Linked DNA regions of Homo sapiens: region 2 is linked to region 1. The links come from fine-mapping of genetic effects on gene expression. Tissue or cell type: pancreas. Region 1 holds a variant in brackets; the other region holds the start of a gene. All regions are shown on one strand. Distances are from middle to middle.

Region 1 (8,098 bases):
TGGCGACTTTACATACCTCACCTTATTTAGTTCTCACAACAATTTATAGCTTTTATTTAGGTGCAGTCACCCCTGCCTGCCAGACCCATGTGCATATCTGATTGTTCCCCTACCCCATTTTGTCTGTGTTATCTTATGTAAAATGCAGATTCCCCCATCTTTCCTTTATCCCTTTTGTTTATGTGAAAACTGTGTGTTTCTCAATATCCCACCCTTTCTCCTTTAAATTTGGAGCCCCCAAAATCATCTTCAGAGAAAGACATAGACCTGTCTCCCAGGTGCGTCCTTAACTTTGGCAAATAAATCTCCAAAAATGATTGAGACTTGTCTCATCGTTTTCTCCGATTGACAAGCCAAACCATTCACATGTTACAAATGAGGAAACTGAGGCTCAGAGAGGTATATAGGTACCCAGTGTGGTACACAGATTTGTATAAAATGACCTAAATTCATCCTTCCTTGTATCCACGCCCTTTGCAAAATGGTTTTGCAGCTCTTCCCATCAAAAGGCAGAGGTGGTTTCCAAACTCTTGAGTCAGGTTGGTCTTGTGACTTGCTTTGGCCAACAGAATTGCTGGAAGTGATACCGTGCCAAATCTAAGACCCCAAACTGCCTTGCAGGTTTCTTCTCTCTCTCTCTCAGACCCCTGTCTCCATCAGGAGAACGGTCTGCTGGAGAATGAGAGACCAGTTGTTCCCATCACCCTAGATGATAGTCAGAGCTTCCTGCAGACCTGGCAGCTGACTGCAAAAATGCATGAGGGATGCCAGCCCACACCAGAACCATCCAACTGATGGTTCAGGCTAAATTGTCAACTCATAGAATCATGTTTTAAGCAACTAGGTTTTGGGACGATTTGTTACATAGCAGTAGCTAACTGATACACTCACAGTCACACAACTGTTAAAGGCTGAGTCAGGACTCAAGGCAGGAGTCGGGTTTGTGGGACTCCAGAATCCATGCTCTCAACCTCTGTATTTTGCTGCCTCCCAGAAGGAAAATGAGGATAACAGGGCTCTAGCTGCTAAAGAGCCCTTCTCTTGTGTCCCAACATTCAGCTACATCTTCTAGGGAACGTGCCTAATCCCTGGCTCTCTCCTGCCCTGGCACCTCCTTTCATCCCCTGAGCCGTGCTCTTTCATCTCCTACCCTTACAAGGGTCTGGGTGGGGACAAAGCACTGGCTGCCACTTCAGGTTTCCCTGAGCCCCTACTTTGATCCGCTCCAACCCTGCTCGTTTTCAAGGTTTGTTCAGAATGCTGGCAAGAGCCAATGTTTCTACACGTACCTATCAGCAGCCATGATGAAAACCAGCTGTGAGGTTTAAAAATAGCCCCCAAGGGCTGCCAAAAATGCCAGGTCCCTGACTCGGAGAGGAGAAGCCAATCCCAAGGTGCGGCCACCATCATCAGGGAAGAGTCATAGCCACCACATGCCCAGGAGTCTTCCATGCCAGTCCCACAGGACTTGCCACAGGAGCTCAGCTGAGCCCGAGTCCCTAGGAGCAAAAGCCCCCGGAGAAGCGGGGATGGAGTTCGAGACCAGCCTGGTCGACATGGTGAAACCCCATCTCTACTGAAACTACGAAAATGAGCTGAGTAGTCCCAGCTACTCAGGAGGCTGAGGCAGGAGAATTGCTTGAACCCGGGAGGCAGAGGTTGCAGTGAGCCGAGATCGTGCCACTGCACTCCAGCCTGGGCAACAGAGCGAGACTCTGTCTCAAAGAAGGAGGAGGAGGAGAAGGAGGAGGAGGAGGAGGAGGAAGAGGAGGAGGAGGAGGAGGGAGGGGAAAATAAGGCAGGGCCCAGAAAGCCTCCCAGGGGCCTCTTCCCCCTCCTGCTTCCCACACCTCCTGCTGCCCCTCCCTCCTCCCCCCTTCCATCATTCTCTCCCCTTCCCTCTTTTTTTATTGCGTCCGAAGGGAAGAGACTGGGCTGTGGAGGGAGACTGCCTAGATCCCCCTCGGGAATTCTGTGATCCTAGGCAAGTGACGTCACCCTTGAGCCTCAGTTTCCTCATCTGTCACACGGAGGTCTGGCTTGCTGGGTGTCCTAAGGACCTACTAGGACGATGAGTCGGTGAGAGCACGATGCCGTCATTTCTTCTTTGGAGAAGGATGGGGATGAGGAGAGTGCCCTCCTCTCTTCTCCCTCTTTCTCCCTCCTTCCTGCCCTCCATCCTCTTTCCGCTCCCACACGCCCCTGGCCTGGCCCCCATGTGACGGCCCCCAGGGCCAGGGATCTGCCAAGCTGAGTCTACCTGCAGTGCAGCCCTGTTGCCCTGGGGCGCCCTGGGCCTGGCTCGCTGAGGGAGCCCAGACCAGGCCCGCTGCACCACCCCATCAGCTCCCACATCAGCCCTGTGCTGGGTGTTTGGCTCACAGCTATATCCCAGTGCCTACAATGCTGCATGGCACCTAGTAGGTGCTTAACAAATATTTGCTGAGTGACCGCAGGAACCAGCAGTAATTGTTCCCATTGACAAATGAGAAACTGAGGCTCCAAGAAGTTGGCTAGCTTATAGCAGAGCACAGCCCTTAAAGCTTGAGGGGACCCACATAAACAAAAGGGATAAAGGAAGGATGGGGGAATCTGCATTTTACATAAGATAACACAGACAAAATGGGGTAGGGGAACAATCAGATATGCATTTGTGTTTGGCAGGCCGGTCCTACCCAAGGTCCCAGAGGCGGATTTGAACCCAGTTTTGCTGGTGAATGACACCCCATTTTCTCATCTCTTCTAGCCGGCTTTCCCCTTACAGGCCAAAGCCTGTCACACAGGCGCTGTGTGGCCTTAGGTGATTCACACACCCTCTCTGAGCCTTGGTTCCTGCATTTGTAAAACAGAAAACTGACCTAGCTGCACTCAGGCACAATTTCCCTGGGCTCATTTTTCCTCTGTTCTCAGCATCCAGCACAGGCTGTGGCGTGAGGTCCACACCAAATAAATCTCTGTTAGTTAATTAATGAAAAGGACAAGTTTACTTTAGAGTATAAAAGTCTGCTCCGAAGCTCTCCAGTTACCGTCTCTGGGAGCATATTCTTTCTCTCTTCCATTTCAAAGAAAGAGAAACTGCAAAGGCACAAGATACACTGGAGATGTGGGTTATGCAAGGAAGATGAGGGGACCACCCCAAGCAGCAGAGCACCCCACCCCACTCAGAAAGACCTTTTTCCTCCATCAAAAAATAGGTGAATGAATGGGAAATGCCAGTCTTTCCATTGAAATGCAATCTTGAGGGACGAGTATTTCACAGGCCATGGACCGGCCTTGGTGCTGACTTTGACGCACACCAGCTCCTGGTCCTGAGCGTGTCAGCGGGGAAATGCCCTGCTTCTCCAGCTTTGCAGGATGGTTGTTCACGGCTTCTAGGACAGCGCTGTTCCAGGCTCTGGGAGACCCCGATGAGCAGCCGAACCCTGTCTATCCCTGAGGGAGCGGATGTCATGTGGGGCATCCGGAAGGTTCTGAGCAATTCTGCTTGGAATCTCAGAGGTTCCAACAGAACAGCTGCAAGTTACCAGTTGACACGTTCAAGCACCTGGATGGGTGGTCAGTTTCTGTAGATCCCAGAGAACTTTCTGGAAAGGTGGCAGTGTGTGCCCCTAGGGCAAGAGTCAAAGGTGGTAGCCACCCAGGGAGCCCCAAGGAGAGGTTCTGGCGCTCTCAGGACATCCAGGCCACACCAGTCTTCCAGGCACCCCCCCCGCCCCACCTCCAGGCACACCAGCTCTGCCCAGGTTGCCCAACCTGTATGTGTCCGGGTCATGGCCATCGTCACCCACAGCGTCACAGGCGTCCTGGCCAGCACCTGCCTCCTGC[T/C]AAAACGCTAAAAACAGCTGCATTACCTTGCCGGCCTCCAGTCCCTGAGAACAAACTCACCTGGCTTAAATAGAGTGGCTGGAAGAGCACTTTCATTAGGGGCCGCACATTCTGACATAGGGCTCCTGGCTGCTCCCCAGGTTGGGGGCTGGGGGGTGTCACTTTTATAAACTTCCACAGACCCTTCTTGCCAAGCCTACTGGACAACAGAGGCTATGATGAATCCAGGCTGACCGGCAGGTCCTGGCACCACTCACCTCAGAGTCTAAGGCCAGGCTGGAGTGACCAGGCTGGAGTGGTCAGGCCCCGCCCACCTGAGCTGCAGAGGGGCAGAGGGGACAGGGCCGGCTGCATGGGGTGTGACCTGTGCAGTCGCAGAGGGACCCTCACACTCAGAAGGGCCGCCTGTTGGTTTAATGCTCTGCTGTTGTCGTCTTAAAAGTCTTCGTCGTTTTTGAACGTTTGGAGGGGGGGCCACATTTTTACTTTGCACTGAATGCCTCTGAGGGACTCATAAGTGGGCCCCATCCCCCCAGGAGTCCCAGAACTCATGAAGGGGCTTCAGAAATGAGCAGCAGCAGAACCACAGACATCCCCAGGCCGGGGCCACCCTCTCGAGTATCCCGCGCCCTGGCTGTTGGGCTGCACGGTCACGTTCCCATGGTTGTGCTAATAGGGGTTGGGAGGGACATGCGTACACACACAGCCATGCAGTCACATGTGCAATAGCTGGTCACCCCACGCCTGCACTTCCAGCACTGGGAGTGGCTGGGAGGCCTCACCATGCCCCCATCACACCTAAGATAATGAGACAGCAGGGAGGGCAGGAGGAGCTGAGGAGGGGGTGTCAGGGACAGAAAGAGAGCCCTTGCCTCCCCCATCTCCGAGGAAAGGAGAGATCCCTCCCTCGCCCTGCTGTCAATCTTCCAGGAACTCCCTGCAGGGCCCTGAGAGGTGTGCATCTTGTCCCCTTGAACTCCCGCTGCCACCCTGAGATAGCGTTTGTATCACACCCATTTTAAGGATAGCAAAACTGAGGCTCCAAGAGCCAAAGCTGCTGGCTGGAACCAAGGCGAGCAGACACAGGAGCCTCATGCCCCGTAGTGGCTCCTAAGGGAGGACCTGCCCCCTGCCCCTCCCCCTGCCCATTCCTCTGCCCACACTGGCTCATGGTCATGGGGGTCTTCCCTCCTCAACCAGCACGCATGCGCCTTCCTCATCATAGCCACAGTTGGAGGGCAGGTCACTGCCCAAGGGCCCTCAGTGTGCTCCTGAGCCCGGGCCCGCTTCCCAAACCGCTTGGCCAGCCTTGCCCTTTGGCCCCAAAGACCAGGCACCAGGAAGGGGCTGACTGGTGGGACAAGCAACATCCAAATCGGAACACCCTGGGGGATGCAGGAGTGGGAGCGGGGTCCTGGGGGAGGGACAGGTCATTTCTTGGCCTGGCTCGGGGCTCCCGTTGCAGCAGCGGGAGTCCTAGGAATGTTTCTCCACCTTGCCTTCCCTCAAGGTTCCCAATGGAAATTTGCCAGAGGTTCCTCATGGCAGCGCGTCTGGCAGGGGATCCGGGACCGTCTACCCAGGCTTCTTAGGGTGGAGCTCTCCCTTGAGTCGAGGGGACCACAGTCTGCAGAGTCTTTGCTGGGCAGGCAGGGCAGTGCGGGAGGAGGAGACAGGCAGGCCTGCTACTGCTGGCCCAGCTGCCGCCGTCTGAGCCTGGCCAAGCCCAGCTGCCCAGGCCTTATTTGGTAAGAGCCTGTGCTGGCCTGGCCGCTCCAGCTGCCAGCTGATGGGACACCCAGAGCCCCGCGCAGGCCTGTGCGCATGCCAGGCCTCTCACCCGGCCCCTTGGCCAGAGATGGCCGATTTGGAGGCGGGAGATCCCGGGGTCAGGCCAAGGCTGTGGCAGCTTCCATCAGATCCCAGCCCAGGGTGGGACAGGGATTCCCCGGCTTTTGACTATATAAGGCCGAGGAGAGGCAGCGCCGCTGAGCAGGCCTGCAGGCCCCGGAGATATCGTCTTAAGAGGGTGTTTGGCATTGGGAGCGAGGCCTTGGATTCCTGCAAAAACCTGGCAGGGAAATTGTTTGACAGCTTTGACAATGTGCTGAAGTCTCCCGAGGGGAACCCGCCCCCCCGGAGACGGCTGGCCAAGGGCATGTGACGCTTCAGCTGCCTCCAGGCTGAGAGTTCGGGCAGCCAGGCCAGACCTGTGGCCTGAGGAGAGGCCAGCCGTGGGCAGTGGTGCCCGGGAGAAGGCAGTGGGGGTGGCCCCAAGCTTGGCTTCCTGGTCTGTGTGGAGCGTGGAGCAGCACCCACCGCCCATGGGGTCCTCAGGCCTCAGGGAGGAAACAGTGGGGAGGAGTGCCCCCAGGGTGCCATCAGGGGAGCTGCCAGGCCCCGAGTCCTGCTGCTGGCCAAGTGCACTGAACAGACTTCATCTCTGTCCCCTCATTCATGCCTCACAGAGACCAAGGACTCAGATGCTCCTCTCATGCCTGCTGACAGATGAGGAAATCGAGGCTCAGAGGAGGAAAGAGATTTAAGACACTGGGCTCTTTCTCCAGCCCATTGGGACCTCCACAGGTCAATATTCATTTATTCTTCCACTCCACGACCACATCCTGAGCTTTGATCTGGGTGGGGCACCATACCAGGCCCAGGGCAGCCACTCAACCGGCCAAGAGATGACTGTTCCCCAAGGAGACAGATATTCCTTCAAATAAGAGGGACAAAGAAGGCCTCTCTGTGTAGTGACCTTGAAGCTGAGGCCCAAAGATGAGAGGGGGAAGAGCATGGTGCTCCAGGCAGAGGAAACAGCGTGTGCAAAGGCCCTGGGGTAGGGCGAGGCCTGGCCCAATCTCAGGCAGCCAGGAGGCCCACAGGGCTGGAGCAGAGTGAGCAGTGGAGTTGGGGAGATTCGGTCTGAGATCGCAGGTGCTTCCAGGGTCTGTGGGGTGTCACATTTTATTCTGAGCAGCGGGAAGCTGGGTTTGAAGCCGGAGACCTAATAATGTGATCCCCCATGAATCACATGTCTGCATCTGCTAAGTGCTCTATGCTCATTTCCTCACCCAGTTCCCCATCCCTCATCCCTGTGAGGCGGGGAATCTCTAGCATCAGTTTACCAAAATGGAAACTAAGGCTCCCAGAATCAGTGATGTGGGAGGGGGACAGGGATCCTCCCTCGGTTCTGTCTGGTGCTGGAGGGGCAGCACATTGTCCCGGGTGGCTGATCCTGGCCCTGACTCCCTGCTGTCCCTTCTACTGCCCCACCCCCATCCCGCTCAGGTTTTCTGCTGCCATGGTGACCAACTCACCCAGCTTTGCCCGGGACCTTCCCAGTTTTAGAACTGAAAGTCAGGCTTCCCAGGAAAGCCCTCAATTCTGGGCAAACTAGTTGCTGGCCAGCACCACCAGGAGCTCAGGGAGAGAAGAGAGGACAGCCAGGTGCCCTCCCCACCACCCGCCTGGCCCCATGCCACCTCTGCCCACACCAGGCGGGGCCATGGAGAGGAAGGCAAATAGCAACTAGTGCCCAGTGTGCGGCCTGGCCCCACCTCCTGCCAGTGCCTGGGCAACACCTTCTGCTAGGGGGTAAGCAGGACAAAGGCAGGGCCGAGCTGGGGGTGCAGGGCAGAGGGGTCGGGGGTGGGAGGGTGGGGGAGTGGGGTGGCACGGCAGAGGGGTCAGGGGGATGGGGGGTGGGAGGGGCAGTGCAGGAGGAGGGGGGGTGGGAGGGCAGGGCAGGGGGGCTGAAGGGGCATGGCAGAGGGGTCAGGGGGTAGGAGGGTGGGGGTGTGGGGGCGCAGGGCACAGGGGTCGGGGGTGGGGGGCAGGACAGAGGGGTCAGGGGGTTAGGGAGGTGGGGGGGTGTGGGGCAGGGCAGGAGGCTGGGGGGTTAGGAGAGCAGGGCAGGGGGGCGGGAGGTGGGCAGAGGGCAGCTAGGGAAGCCGGAGGAGCGCAGGAGCAGGCCCAGGTACTGGCCACACCAGGAGAGCTCTTCCTCCAGCAGGAGACTCACATAGGCCTGCCTTTGAACCCACAGGCTCTGTGACATTGAACATCTTCTGGTTGCTTCTTGGTTGCCCCCCCTATAATATGGGAGAGCAACAATAGCCAGCAATAGCCAGGAAGCTGCTGGGTGCCAGACTCTGTTAAGAGCTGTGCTTATGACCGCCTCCTGGAATGCACAGGCACCCTTAAGAGGAAAGGCTTGTTTCTCTGTGCAGACAAGGAGCAAATCCCAGAGAGATGGAGACTGCCCTGGGTC
Region 2 (8,098 bases), 52 kb after region 1:
ATGGAGTCCCAGAGGTAGCTGTGTGGATCAGAGCGAGCCCAGACGCACGTGGGAAGGCCTTATCCCACTGTAAGCAGAAAAGAGCTGCAGGCACTGGAGGCACACACCCTCACCTCTGGGCAGCTGCTCCCGCCCAGTCCATGCCCCCAGGCGCCTGCTGTGGGCCTGGGGAATGGAGCCAAGGTTCTGGAAAACAAGGAACACCCTCTTCATGTGGCCTGAACCCCATAGGAAGAATCTCGGTGAAGGCATGAAGGCTACAGTGTCCCCAAACACCCTCTAAGACGACTCTAGACATCTACAAAACAGATTCCAGGACGAGACGGACAGGGCCGCCTGCTCCCACCACCCTACACGCTCCCTTCCCAGGAGGACAGAGGCACCCCGGCAGGAACCTGAGCTGCCCGGCCACTCGCACAGGCTAGAAGGGCCCCGGCCACCCTCCAGCACCCCTCAGCCAGCGGCTCCTCCCACTGCTACACTTGCACACATCCACCAATACACACGGAAGCCGGCAGGGAGCCCCCGAGTCACCCCAAGCGTTCCCAAAAAGTGGGCACAGCAACTTCTGCTGGGGCCTCTGACCCATTCACCTGGGAGCCAGGCCCCAGGGGACCCATTCACCTGGGAGCCAGGCTCAGCCGGGTTCCACAGGATCCTTGTCCACACTGCCCCAGTCAGGCAGGTTACTCCTCAAGCTGTGTCTCTCTCAATGGAATCTACGTGGTGCGCACATGCGTGAGCACACACACGTGATCAACTGGCATTAGGGATTTGGATTCAGAAAGTTCATGAAGTGCCAATGCCCTGAAAGGGGTGGTGGTCTCTGAGCTGCCTTCCCCTCCAACTCCAACCCCATCAATATGCCACGGCGCTAGGGCAGACAGCTTCCATCCATCATGGGGGTGGGGAGGCAGGCCGCAAGGCAGGACTCTTTGTATCCCTTAAGTGTGTGTGTCCCTCCCCAAGCAGCTGCCAGGACTTACTAGATGTTTTAAAAAAGGGCAGGGAGGTGGGAGGCGTTTTAGGATGGAGAAGAGTGGGCTGCGCTGCTTGTAAATGAGTCAGACTAGAAGCCCATAGGCCAGGCCACTCAGGCAGGTGGCCTCCACCCCAAACACATCGTATCTACAGCAACGTTCACAAACATCAGACCTTGGTAGCAATGACCTACTGCCACCACCTGCCCCAGCACTAGAACAGGTGAGAGGAGTGCCTGGGGAAGAACTCAGCCTGCCAGTCCCTAAGAGTCATCAGCAAACACTTCAAGAGGGCGTTACCTGCACCAGGCCCACCCTAGGCCCTCCATTCAGAGAACTCAGATGTGCTGTGACCACTCCCATTTTACGGGTGAGGAAACTGAGGCCACACACCTAGCGAAGGGAGCTGGGGTGTGTACCAAGGCAGGCAGGCTCCAAGGCTCACCATCCCCTAGGTGGTATGGCCTCTGCCAGGGATGGAGAAGTGCAATCTGCCTTCTCTTCACTCCCTTGGCTTAAACGCAATCAAATGTCTGAAAACTGTCATTTCCCCAGCCTTCCAGACCCAGGAAGCCCAAGGCCCTCTCCACTTCATCTCCACGGACTACCCACCCCAAGCCAGCCATGTCCACTCACCCGTAAGTCCGCTGGATCAAGGTGGGGTGCAGCTGCTGCACCCCAATGGCAAAGCCTAAAACGAGAGAACAATCAGGGACTTGGCCTTGCTGCACGAGCCACGTCTCAAGGGCTGCACACAGGGTGGCAGAATCCCACAAGCCACACACCTCTAGTCAAAAGGGATCATCCGCTTCCTCTCCCCTCCCAGGCCTCCCCCTTGTGAACCCCAAGGCACACCGCTGAAGTGTGGCAGTGAGTGACGCAGGTGTCAGCAGCCACTGGTGTCGGCACTCCCAACCTCCAGGCCCCATGGCCACTTCCTCCCTCCTGCGAGGACAGCTGGCAACTGGGGTGCAGTACCCTCCCTGCCCCCCGCCCCCTTCTTTGGGCCACACGCTGTGAGAAGGGGTCTAGATCCTCGAGGGGGGGATGGCTGCCCTGTGCCGGCTCTGCAGGCACATGATAGCCGACTGCCACTGCTGGGGCGAGGAGGGGGGGCCTCTTTCCACCCGACAGATACCGACACCCAATATAGAAACCGAGAAGAGCCAGGCAGGAAAACACAAGCTCTCACCCGTCTGGAGGCTCCGCGGCTTGGCGCCCAGATATGCCAGGTTCACGTTGGCCTTGCGGCCGTCGATGATGGGGTTCGGGTCTTTGCAAGCCCTCTCAGCTGCCGCCCGGTCGGCCATGGTCACCTGGTGGAGCAGAGACACATCAGGGGCTGCCGTGGGGGGAACCAGGGGCGAAAGGGGCAGACGGCTCCGCCCTGGCACCGGATGCTGCCACCCCTCTCTTCCCTTCCTCTGAGGGTGCCTGTGACCCAGGGTCCTTGAGCCAAAGCTCCTCTGAACCCTACCTGGGGCTCTCCCACAAAGATGCCTCCTGGATTCCAGCTCCTCCCGTCAAAGTTCAAGGCCTGGGAAATGTGGCCTTCAAGGACAAAAATAATCCCCTGCGGGGATAGGGCAAAAATGAACCCCGAAGGGAGCTTGGGGGGCCGCCTGGACTTGCCCACCAGTGAGGGCCGAGACTTTCCTCTGAGAAGGAGTTTGCGACGCTATGCTTGGAAGGTAAGCAGGAAAGTGTCTTCAAGACGTTTTTACTTAAGCTGATGTTTATTTGGGGCGGCTGAGAGGGCTGTTAAAAATATGGGGGAGGCCGAAGAGCTCCTAACACCCCGGGGTGGAGCCATTGCTCCTCACCCCCCGCTGCTCCAGGAAATCCCGAGTGCCCTCTGGCTCCAAAACCTCCCCACCAACTTAGGAGTCCTAATTGAACACAGCGGCTCTTCCTTTTAAACCGGGGGTGGGGGTGGGGGTGGGGGTGGGGGTGGGGGCCGGGGCCTGGGGTGGTGGGGGCGGGACCGGCAGGAGCGCGCCCGGGAGAGGCGGCAGGTGCGGGCGCCGGCTGGAGGCGCCTGGGGCGGGGGCGGCAGCGGGCCGTCTGGGCGTGTGCCCCGGAGTGGACTCGGCGCCCGGGCCGCGATAAGGTGTGCGGCGGGGTGCGGGCCCGGGCGCGGGGGCCACTTACGAAGCCGTAGCCGCGGGACTTGCCCGTCTGGCGGTCGGTGATGACCACGGCCTCCTCGATGTCGCCGAAGCCCTCGAAGTACTTCCTGAGCGAGGCGTCGGTAGTGTGGTACGGCAGGCCGCCCACGAAGATCTTGGTGAACGTGGTGTCCTTCTGCGAGCCGTGCATGGCGCCGGGGGCGGCCAGGGGCCGCGGGAAGCCCGCGCTCGGGGCGCACGGCGCGGGCTGCAGCAGCATGGGGGGCGCCCCGCCGCCTACGGACCCGGGCCGCGCGGGGCTGCGCTCATGGGGGGCGGCGGGGAGCGCGCGGGGCAGCGAGGGGCGCCCGTCCAGCCGCCAGGCCCGACCACTCCGGCGCCCGTCCCGCCGTGCGCGCCGACGTGCGCCGCGCTGCGCTCCCGACCGGCGCTGCGGGGACTCTGCGCCCCGGCACCGCCCCCGGGCTTTGTAGCCTGCCGCCCCCGCCAGCTCAGCCCCGCCCCCAGCCGGCCCCGCCCCGCCCCGGGCGCGCGGGGACCGCCGGGAAGCGTAGTTCTAACCCCGCCCAGCCGCACCCGGGCGCGCGGCGATTGGGGGGAGGGGGGAGGGGAGCGCACGCGGGCTGAGGGCGGATCCGGGCCTGGGGGCGCTGGGCGCGCCTTTCTCTCCTGGCTGCCCCCGCGGGCCCGGCCGGTTGCAGGCACTAAGCACAACCCTGAACTAGGGAGGCCAGGCCCCTTCCCTCGTGGAGCGCACCGTCTGGTGAATTAAACGTAAAAAACGTAAAAAAACGTAAACGGTTTTTAGCATCTTGTTAATTGAGTCGGTATTTAACCCAGGGCGACTTAGGGAAGAGCCACGTGCCATATTAAAAAAGGGAAATGATTTCTGTTTTATATGTAAGATTAGTTCATCCGACCGATATTTACTCTGGGCGCGAGGCTGCAGCGGAGCACAGATCATATTCCCTGGCCCCACGGAGCGTCCAGGACTGAGAATTCGGCTAGTAAACATACAGCATACGACCCCGGAGGGAGCTACACCACGGTGCCGCGATAGAAGCGGGTCCCGGGCGGTCTCAGAGGCCCCGCGGGAGATGAGGTGGGCAGAGGAAGCAGGTGTGGGCTCTTTCCAGCTCCACCCCGTTCTGGGCTGGTGTCAGGGACCCTTGGGGCGAGTAAGAGCAGACCCGGGTCCCTCATCCGGCCCCCAGCCATAGAAAGGCGGCGCATAGTGGGGCTCTGTGAGCTTCACACCAGGCAGGGCCAGCCACAGAATTTTCGGGGCCCAGTGCAAAATGCAAACGCGGGGCCCCTTATTCAAAAGCTAGGAATTTCAAGTTGGCAGCGGTTGAGCATGAAACTCAGCCCCGGGCTTTCCTGAGCGAAGGGAAGGGCCGTGTGACTGCACAGACCCCGGGATCCCGGACCTGCGGGTCACACCCTCCACCTCTGAAGCCGGGACTAGGGGCCTCAAGCCCGCCTCATCTCCAGCCCCCGCGGTTGGGACCTATGCAGCTGGGAAACAGCAGCTCTAATTGGGGTCACTCCCGGCCCCAGCCCTGCGGCCTCCTCTCAGCACAGGGCGACGCAGGTGGGGTCTGTGGGGACTGGGAGTGGCACTCCGTGGGCTGTGGGGGACCGCAAGGCCGGCGAGGAGTTCCCCTCGTTTCCTCCAGCACCGAGGAGTTCTCCGCGTTTCCTCCAGCCCTCTGCCCTGGCTGCCGGCGGGGAGGAGTCTGCCCGCCCCCTCCCCCACTCCACGGCCCACGCTCCACGCGGCAGCCTTGACCTCTGACCTCTCCCTCCCCCAGCTCCCGCTCTAGCCCTCTGCACAGTGGGGATGGGACCCCCGAGTCTTCCGGAAGCCTGGGCGTCCTTTCCTCCCTTCCCCCTTCGTTCCTCGTTCCTGGCGCTCCTGCCCCCGCTTGCGGCCCCCGTTGCCCTTCATCCCGCGTGGTTTCCTCTCCTTCCTTCGCGGAGTTTCCCACCTCCCCGGCCCTGTGTGTTCGCCTGCCTGGAGCCCCTCCCCTGCTATTTGGGCGCTGCGAGAACAGGGACCTGGGATGTTTTGCCCAAGCTGGAGGGCCTGGCAAGGAGAGGGCTCTGGGATATGTTTGTTGAGTGTATCCACGATGGAACAAGGTGGGGTGGGGGAAAGCTCTGGCCCAGCCGGAGGCCCTTCGAAGCGACTTTGAAAACTTTCATTTAAGTGTGACCTTCACTTGCCCCCTAGAGGCCGGGGGAGGCGGCCACTGCGCGGCCGCGTGCTTTTGCGCCAGCTGGATCCCTTCACCAGGCCTCGGTTTCCCCTTCAGTTTTTCCAAGGCTGTCCCCAGCCGTCGCGTTGCCTGGGCAGGCTGGAGCCGCGTCGGTGGCGTGGCCACGGGCTTCAGCCCGGAGGCGCCCGGGCTCCCGGCCTACAAGTCCCAGCGCCGCCCGGGCCCGCCTCGCCCGCGCCCCTCCCGGCACGACAGCCCCACAAAGGGGTGCGGCCGCTCGGCTGCTGCCGCGGGGGCCGGGCCCAGGCGGCAGGGCAGCCCCGGGGCCTCTGCCTGCCCGGAAGGGGGCGGGACAGGGCCGTGGAGGCTGGAGACGCGGTTGCCCAGGTGCGGGTCCAGTCGCACTCCTTCGCCCCCCGCCCCCGGGCCCCCTTGGGTATCTGGATCACCAATCCCTCCCCCCCTCCGGCGGCCCCATGTCTCCACGGGTCACCAGCTTCTGCCTGACAATCAGTCATTCACCCAAACACACACTTTTTTTTTTTTTTTTTTTGAGACAAGGTCTCTCCCTGTCGCTGGAGTGTAGCGATCATAGCTCATTGCAGCCTCGACCTCTCGGGCTCCAAGCCATCCTCCTACCTCAGCCTCCCAAGTAACTGGGATTACCGGTGCGTACTACGATGCCGGGATAATTTTATATTTTGTGTAGAGGCTGGTCTCGAACTCTTGGGATTAGGCAATCTTCCTGACTTGGCCTCCCAAATTGCTGGGATTACAGGCTGAGCCACTGCACCCAGCCTCAAACACACATTTATGTGCACCACTGCACTCCAGCCTGGGCGACAGAGCAAGACTCCGTCTCAAAAAAAAAAAAAAACTACAGTCTCATCAGCGCCACTACTTGACCTTGTTGTTGAACGCATTGATGAAGAAGACATTGCTTGTCTACATTGCTACATCACATATTTGTTTTTTAAATATTTTCATAGCCGTTTTTATTTGTTTTAATTAGAGATGGGGTCTCTCTATGTCGCCCAGGCTGATACAGAACTCCTGGGCTCAGTTGATCCTCTTGCCTCAGCCTCCTGAGTAGCTGGGACTTCAGGTGCATGCCAACACACCCAGCCTATATTTTAATGTGATTGTTTTCCTTTGCTAATCTAAGCATTTTATTTGTTATTATTATTTTTTATAAAGACAGGGTCTTGCTGTGTTGTCCGGGCTGGAGTGCAGTGGTGTGATCATAGCTCCCTGCAGTCTCAGCCTCCCGAGTAGCTGGAACCACAGGCATGCGCCCAGCTGATTTTTTAAATTTTTTTTTGTAGAGTCAAGGTCTCCCTTTATTGTCTAGGCTGGTCTCAAACTCCTAGCCTCAAGCAACCCTCCCACCTCCGCCTCCCAAAGCACCGGGATTACAAGTGTGAGCCACCGTGCCTGGCTGGTAAGCATTTTAAGTGTTTAATACTATTACCTTAGGTATCAGCTGACTGCCAAGGGTTCCATGGCCCACAAAGGGCCCCTGGAAAGGGAACACAGTTTTGTGAGACTAGGCTGGGAGCCAGGCTGGGCAGAGGTGACTTGGGTCCCTCAGGCCTCACTGGGGAGCGGGAGGGAGGACTGGCAACTGTGTGTGCTGGGTGAGAAAATGGAAATTGCAGGAGCTTGGAACGCAGAATTCCTGCTCAGTGTGAGGATGAGCCCAGCACTTTCTGTGTGTTATCTTAGTTCATCTCACAAAAGCCCTAGGAAGAGATGACTACGATGATGCCCATTATATAGCTGAGGAAACTGATGCTCAGAGAGGTCCTCTCCTGCCTCCCTCGCAAATGTGTGATGTGTGCAGGGCACAAATGCAGAACTGCCTGGCCTAGGCCTGCTCTCTGCTCCCAGCTGTGGCTCCAGCTGCCCTGCAGAGGAGGGAGAGTGAGTTTACCCTGATGAGGATGTGCAGAGAGGAGCAGGTGAGGCCGGCCACTGCGATCTGAAACAGCACAGCCCCATCCAGGCAGGGCTCTGGTTTGAGTCTTCAGGCCCCGCGCTCTTGGGCCTCCTCTTTTTGTTTGTCGTGTTGGTGTTTATATCAAGGCTCTTCGGGGACTCAGCTTTGGGCTGAGCTTGGTGCAGGTGGCCTGTACACCCCCAGCCTGCAGCCCAGCTCCTTTGAATCCATGGGAGCCCCAGGTTGCCATTTTCATCTGCCAGGTGCAGAGCAGTGAGCCTGGGAATCCCAGCACTTTGGGAGGCCGAAGCAGGTGGATCACCTAAGGTCAGGAGTTCGAGACCAGCCTGGCCGACATGGTGAAACCCCGTCTCCACTAAAAATACAAAATTAGCTGGGTGTGGTGGTGCGTGCCTGTAATCCCAGTTACTCGGGAGGCTGAGGCAGGAGAATCACTTGAACCTGGGAGGCAGAGGTTGTTGCAGTGAGCCGAGATTGCACCACTGCACTCCAGCCTGGGTGACAGAGTGAGACTCCATCTCAAAAAAAAAAAAAGTTTCCCCATACTACTGGGCACAGAGGCCAAAATGCACCAGCAGGCACTGGTACTGGGGAGAGGAAAGGTTCAGCCCCTCTCCAGGTGGCAATGACAGGCTCAGTCGATGCTGTCACAGGCCGCCCCAGCAGCATTGGTGGACAGCTCCTGGAGCAGCAGAGTGCACATGCCTCAGTTTCAGCTGCAAAGACAGAAAGACACTGGCCTGTGTGCATGGCCGAATCCTGGCCTCTGCATCCTAATCCCTGGAACCTGTAACATGGCACCCTACT

What was found. PIP is the estimated chance that this variant, and not a neighbour inherited with it, causes the effect.
Region 2: RBM38 starts here. The variant in region 1 is fine-mapped to the expression of RBM38 in pancreas (GTEx, PIP above 0.99).

What each region holds. Positions count from the first base shown.
Region 1 is chr20:57,438,757-57,446,854 of GRCh38, reverse strand. It overlaps LOC124904939 (a long non-coding RNA gene), which reads left to right and starts at 7,209. Exons shown (of 2, transcript XR_007067672.1): 1 at 7,209-7,422. RefSeq lists enhancers at 4,807-5,666, 6,701-7,200, 2,618-7,201, 7,201-7,702. The variant T/C (reference allele first, on the strand shown) is at 3,826.
Region 2 is chr20:57,386,852-57,394,949 of GRCh38, reverse strand. RBM38 (RNA binding motif protein 38) reads right to left here and starts at 3,554. Exons shown (of 4, transcript NM_017495.6): 1 at 3,132-3,554; 2 at 2,173-2,296; 3 at 1,617-1,671. The coding sequence starts at 3,368. RBM38-AS1 (RBM38 antisense RNA 1) reads left to right here and starts at 1,894. Exons shown (of 2, transcript NR_149006.1): 1 at 1,894-2,671. RefSeq lists enhancers at 1,892-2,081, 2,836-3,335, 3,336-3,837 and silencers at 2,932-3,121, 3,472-3,871, 5,482-5,861.